Homo sapiens: one gene and its partner. The protein of the gene in region 1 interacts with the protein of each later gene in a pairwise test. Each region holds a gene or a part of one and is shown on either strand. Other genes may lie near its edges.

Region 1 (3,523 bases):
AGAGAGGCTCTATGGGTGACTCTGAAGATGGCCAGGGCAGAGCATCATGACCATAAAGACTGCCAGGGCCCTGAGCAAACCAAGACCTGTTCAGTGCTTGGTGGCCAAATAGTGGTTTTGAGCACTGACTTCTGTGCTTGGCAAGTTCCGTCAGTTTTTGATTCCATGGGACACTGCTTCCTCAGAGAACATCAGGGGAAGACTGAAGACGTAGACTTCCTTCTGGCTCTAGGGTGTAAAATGGGACAGGTTATAACACTGGTGTGGCTTCTGTCAGATTCAGAGGTGACTCCAACACAGAAGGCTGTAAACAGAAGTGCATGATCTGAAAAAGAAGAGCTCACAGCTGTAGTAACACTTCCTTTCTTTCAATTACTATTTTTTTAAATGGAGACATGTTCTCACTATGTTGCCCAGGCTGGTCTCGAACTCCTGGGCTCACGTGTACTAACACTTCCATTGTGGCATTACTGCTTTTGGTTTCCTTGCTGAATATTCCTGTCTCTGGTCCTCAGGAGCAGCAAGACCAATTTCCACTTCAGAAGGTCCTGAAAGTGGCAGCTACGGAACGGGAGTTTGGCAACTACCTTTTCCGCCAGAATCGTTTCTATGATGCCAAAGTGAGATATAAAAGGGTGAGAATGCTTTGAAAGTTAAGTGTAAGTTTAGATCCTGAAAACTTCCTTGTTTAAAAAACACAGATTTTGTTTTGTTGTGATTTTTGTTTTGTTTTGTTTTTGAGACAAGAGTGTCGCTCTGTCGCCCAGGCTGGAGTGCAGTGGCGCAATCTCAGCTCACTGCAAGCTCCGCCTCCTGGGTTCACGCCATTCTCCTGCCTCAGCCTTCCAAGTAGCTGGGACTACAGGCACCCGCCACTTCACCTGGCTAATTTTTTTGTATTTTTAGTAGAGACAGAGTTTCACCGTGTTAGCCAGGATGGTCTCAATGTCCTGACCTCGTGATCTGCCCACCTCGGCCTCCCAAAGTGCTGGGATTACAGGTGTGAGCTACCGCGCCCGGCAAAAAACACAGATTTTTGTCTTTCTCCCTACTTTCTATGAGCAGCCATTAAGAAAAATCTCATTTAAAAAAATCCTCATGCCAGGCCAAGGCAGGTGGATCACCTGAGGTCAGGAGTTTGAGACCAGCCTGGCCAACATGGTGAAACCCCGTCTCTACTAAAAATACAAAATTAGCCGGGCGTGGTGGTGGGTGCCTGTAATCCCAGCTACTTGGGAGGCTGAGGCAAGAGAATCACTTGAACCCAGGAGGTGGAGGTTGAGGTTGCAGTGAGCCGAGATTGTGCCGTTGCATTCCAGCCTGGGCAAGAAAGGCAAAAAAACTCCCATCTCAAAAAAAAAAAAAATCCTCATGCCAAAGGGATAAGTACTGGAGAGGGGACTAACGGGGGGATAAGGGCTGAAGAGGGGACTCTCGAGGGGATAAGGGCTGGAGAGAGGACTCACGGGATTGGGAGGCACCTGGGAATGTTCTGTGTTTTGACGTGGTTCTTGGGTACATGGGTGTGTTCAGGTTGTGAAAAACATTTGCCTCTGTATATGTACTTGAACTAGAAGTGTTTAGAATTTCCATCTCACTGCTCTAAAACAATTCAGTTTATTAACTTTTAAAAATTCTCATCCCAGTGCTTATTAGGTCCTCCACCAACCGATTTCTCCACCCCTTTGCCATCATCATTTCATGTCTCTGACAGTGGAGGCTCATTTGGCGATTCTAGCCTGAGGCAATTGCAGCCTCATCAAGCCTCCTGTTGTGATTTTGCTTCTTGTGTAGGTTATGCTGAGCTGTTTTCTGTTTCCTTTTTAATTTTATTCATTCAACAAACATGGCTGGACGCAGTGGCTCATGCCTGTAATCCCAGCACTTTGGGAGGCTGAGGCGAGTGGATAGCTTGAGGTCAGGAGTTTGAGACCAGCCTGGGCAACGTGGCGAAACCCCGTCTCTACTAAAAATACAAAAATTTGCTGGCATGGTGGTGGGTGCCTGTAATCCCAGCTACTTGGGAGGCTGAAGCAGGAGAATCACTTGAACCCAGGAGGCGGAGGTTGCAATGAGCCAAGATCGCACCACTGCACTCCAGCCTGGGCAACAGGGCAAGATTCTGTCTCCAAAAAAAAAAAAAACAAAACACCACACATGCGTGTGCTGTCTCTGGAACATACTCATATAGGCCAAATGTTGCCGACCCTGTCACCCAATATCTATTCCCCCTTCTCCTAACAGAACCTCCCATTTCACTCAAAGCATCAGTGTACTAATTAAAAAACTACATCTTCCCAGCTTCCCATGAGCTTAGGGTGTCCCTGTAACAAGGGTCTAGCCAAGGAGACATAAAGGGAAACCTCTGGAGGGTCTTCCAGAAAGCTCTTAACATAACACAAGCACCAGACTCTTCTCCCCTCCCTCCTTCCCACCCAGGTGACCCCGCAATGCGTGGCCAGGGGAGAATCTCCCTGGGGCCCGCCACACAGCTCTTGTCCTGGGGCTGCCCTATAATGCTAGTTTGTGGATTTCCTGTTTTTTTCTCAACTTACTCCTTTGTTTTAACAGAGTATGTTGATGTATGTCTAAAATATTCTTGGTTTTTAAATACATATTTGTCTAGAGTTGTTATTAAAAAGTCTTTTGGCTGGGCACGGTGGCTCATGCCTGTAATCCCAGCACTTTGGGAGGCCGAGGCGGGTGGATCACCTGAGGTCAGGAGTTCAAGACCAGCCTGGCGAACATGGTGAAACCCCGTCTCTACTAAAAATACAAAAATTAGCTGGGCGTGTTGGTGGGTGCCCATAGTCCCAGCTACTTGGGAGGCTGAGGCAGGATAATTGCTTGAACCCGGGAGGTGGAGGTTGCAGTGAGCCAAGATGGCATAATTGCACTGCAGCCAGGGGAATAAGAGTGAAACTCCATCTCAAAAAAAAAGGTCTTGCTAGTTCTGAGCTCAAAGCTAACAACAACAACAAAAAAATCTTACTACTACTTAGGTTCTTTATTCCTTTCTACGTGACCTGTTTTTTCTTCTGTAGAGACGAAGATCGTTTTTCCCCGGCATTCCTAAATTTTACGGTGATGTGCCTCTGCGTGTGTGTATCTTTTCATTCAGGAAACTTTTCCTCCACTCTGGGAAACTTTCTTGAGTTATTTCTTTGATAATTTACTCTTGTTCCCTCTGCCCTCTTTGTCTGGAACTCCTATTATCAGACCTCCTGCACTGAGCTTCTGGCTGCTGTCCCTCCCCCCTCCCCACCTAGTTTCCATCTTTTCTCCTGTTTGTGTCATGTATGGAAGCTTTCCTTGACTTTTTGCCACCTCTTCTGATGAATTTTTCATTTAAAACTGGGGGGCCAGGCACAGTGACTCACACCTATAATCCCAGCACTTCAGGAGTCCAAGGTGGGAGGATTGCTTGAAGCCAGGAGTTAAAGATCAGTCTGGGCACCATAGCAAGATCCCATCTCTACAAAAAATAAATTTTAGAAAATTGAAGGGCTATTTGTTCTTCCCC
Region 2 (3,523 bases), on another chromosome or scaffold:
GGGAGGACTTGAAACACTAAAAAAAAAGAAAAATCATGATGAGAAAAATGGTTAGATTTGTTTACCCTAGAGAAGAGAATGTAAAAATTGCTTTTACCTGTTTGAAAGACAATCAATAGATAAGGGAAATGTATTTTCAAGGCTTAGTTTAAGGACCCTGGTAGAAGTTAAAGAGTCGCTAAAAGGTAGATTTCATTCATGCATTATTTTATGCCATCTGTGTAGCAGATCTAGGGGATGAACAGGACAGATAAAAATCAATATAGGAATACAGGAATTATGTGAACACCAGTTATTGATACCCAGCAATGCCATAGGCTGTTTTGTAAACTAATGAGGTTTCATTGATAAGTGGCCAAATATTACTAAGAGGGGATTTCGATATTGGGTGAGATAATTGAGTGGTGACATTTACTATTGTTTCCATAATTCTAAATGTTGAAAATATATTTAGTCTTTTATGATGTAAAATGATATTTATGAAGCACATTCCTGAAAGGTGCTGCTAAAATGCCTTGACAGGTTGCTTGTTTATGGATTTTCATTTTGCAGAGTTCATAAATCTCAGTCATTTTCAGAGGAATCACAAGCTACTAATGAGAAAACTTACAACTTTAGGGTCTTGTGAAAAAATAATTGAAGAGTAATAGGGAACAGGTTTATAGACCTGAGGCAAAAACTTTTTCAGGGAGTTCTACGATTTTGAGGACTGTCTCTATTCTGTTTATGTCCATAATATTTTCACTACATTTCATGAATTGTTTATATTCTGCCTTGGAACCTAAAGGGACCAGGAGTTTGGCCAGTTACAGAAGGTAAAACAATTGAATATACTTACGATTTATCCGCTTGTGGACCGAGGTTCTTTTCCATTCCAGTTTCATCCCTACTGGGGTATTCCTAACACTGTTCCCCGTTCTGCCCCTTTCCCCTCAACAGATATCTTGGCATTATACTTCCTAGAGAATATGGAGGTACTCTTGAGATTTTTTAGTTACTTCCTCCCCCTTAAAAGATTATTTAAAAATATCTTTCTCAAACTTTTCCTTCCATTCTCAGGGGAAGAAAGAGCTTTCTTTCTAAGGTTAACTTTCTTGCTGTGCTTTTTATTATCCCTTGACCAGTTAGCCTCCCTTGTTCTGACTCCTCTAGTGATTCCTTTTTGTTTTTACTGGCTGCAGACATTTTTCATTCTCCTTTATGCTGAAAAATATATAAAAACCAAAACAATAACAAAACCTACTCCCTACTATTCCCTGTTACTCTCTTTGAGAACAGATGCCTCAAAAGAATAACCTATTTCCAGCCAGGCACGGTGGCTTATGCCTGTAATCCCAGCTACTCAGGAGGCTGAGGCAGGAGAATCACTTGAACCCTGGAGGCGGGAGGTTGCAGTGAGCACCACTGCATTCCAGCCTGGATGACAGAGGGAGACTCTGTCTCAAAAAATTAAAAAATGAATAAAAAAGAATAACCTATTTCCTAGTCTGTTCATTCTTTACCACCCCTTGCAGTTTCTACACCTTCTGCCCTATTGCACTTCTAAAAATGTTATTTTATTTATATGTGTATATATGTATTTTCTTGAAATATAATCCTATACCGTACAAATTACCCATTTAAACTGTACAAATCAGTCGTTTTTAGTATTTGCAGAGTCATGAAACCATCACAATTTTCAGTGTCTCTAATAAACAACTAATCACCAATTAAAGTAAACTTTCCTTAGTTCCTTGTCCTTTAACTTTTCTTTAGCATTTGTCACTGTTGACTACCATCTCTGGTTTAAAGCTGACATCCCATGGTTTGTTTTGCAACAAAGGATGCAAATTTCCCTACTTCTTGGACCAGTCTTTTTCCCTTTCTCTAATTTGGTGATTCTTAGTCTGCAAGTGGGTAAATCATAAGTGCATTCAAGTCTGTTTTACCTTCCTGTCACTGGGCAAACGCTCGCCTTTGGTGATTCTTCCTACTTGGTACAAGTTCACAGAGTTCTGTACCCAGACCCCTTCCTTCTTCACTCTCCATCCCTCCATCCGTCAACATGACTTTATAGTTATCACCTCTGTGTAGATGAACCCCAAGTAGATATGTTCTGTAGAGACTTCAACTGGCCTATTTATCTGTCTGATAGATATTTCCACAAAAGGATCTTAAAGTTCTTCAAGCTTAGTATTTATAGAGCCAAATTCTTTTCCTCCCTCCTTATCAAAACCAGCTTTTTCTCTTGTCTTATCCATTTGTCTTTTTAGTATCACCCTCTGTGTCAGTCAAACTTGAAATCATCTTTTTCCATTCTTTGCCTCATGGCCAATTATGACACACACACCCCTTGTTCCAGCTGCCATTGTGTGGAGACAGGTGTATTAGGCATTACTTGAACTGCTACTATAATCTCCTAACTCTTCCTCTTTCTGCATACCTCTAAACAGCCCTTACCTCATTATGTTCTCTCCCCTTACATGCGTTATTATTTGTGGCACTTAAGATTCCCTGACAAATATTCATATATTTCTTTCTTATTGTCTCTCCCACTAGAATGTAAGCTTCCTGGGGCAAAGACCTTACTTATCTTGTGCCCTGCCATGCCATTAAGGCCTGGCTCATAGTAAATGCTCAGGAAATATTTAAATGAAAAAGTACATGGAAAACTGTTAGGCGTATGTATATTAAAGTAGCAATTCCCAACTGTGAATAAATTGCTAAGATGTGCTAAGATATTGATTCCCTCAGCCAACTGTCCAGTTGCCTTCTGTTCTATAAGAATATATGTACATGTTTAACACTTATTAATAATCAAACACCAGAAACATTTACATGCCCAAACAGTAGAATGTATAGATAAAGTGTGTTGCATTCATAGGATATAACTGTACTGTACAGCAGACTTTCTCAGCTTTGGCACTATTGACATGTTGGACCAGATAATTTCTTGTCATGGGGGATTGTTCTGTGCACTGAGGACATTCAGCAACATTCCTGGCCTCTACCCACACTAGATGCCAGTGGCAACCCCCCAGTTAGGAAAACCAGAAGTGTCTTCAGACATTGCCAAATGTCCCCTGGGGGGCAAAATTGTCCCAGGTTTAAAAACCACTGCTCTGCGGCAGTGAGAATGAACAAATACTGCTTTATGCAACAACAGGAATGAATCCCATGAACTTAATATTGAGCAGAAGAAACCAAATGTAAAAGTGGTACTGTGTCATCGCACAGTCCTTCAAAAACAGGCAAAACAAATTGATGGAAATAGAGGTCAGAATAGTTATCTTTGGGAGGATAGTCACTAGGAAAGAACGAAGAGAGCTTCTGGAATGTTGGTACTGTTCTCTTTCTCAACTGAATAGTGTTAACACAGGTGTGTTTACTTTGTGAAAAACAATCAGCCATACACTTATAATTAGTTCACTTTTCTTTTTGTATGCTATAATTCAAATCACAGTGTTGTAATTTATGAAAGCAGTACCCACACATAAGCAAGTATTCCTTGGCTATCGAGGGATTGATGAAGATAAGGAGTCCT

Evidence for each region.
Region 2: the proteins of FKBP6 (region 1) and CCNK interact in a two-hybrid assay, tested with the Homo sapiens proteins (one large-scale study listed by BioGRID and IntAct).

The regions. Positions count from the first base shown.
Region 1 is NC_000007.14:73,331,142-73,334,664, forward strand, and holds part of FKBP6 (inactive peptidyl-prolyl cis-trans isomerase FKBP6), read left to right. Parts: intron 1-515; coding exon 516-635; intron 636-3,523. UniProt on the Homo sapiens protein: Has an essential role in spermatogenesis. It is required to repress transposable elements and prevent their mobilization, which is essential for the germline integrity.
Region 2 is NC_000014.9:99,484,409-99,487,931, forward strand, and holds part of CCNK (cyclin-K), read left to right. Parts: intron 1-2,044; exon of another isoform or gene 2,045-2,050; intron 2,051-3,523. UniProt on the Homo sapiens protein: Regulatory subunit of cyclin-dependent kinases that mediates activation of target kinases.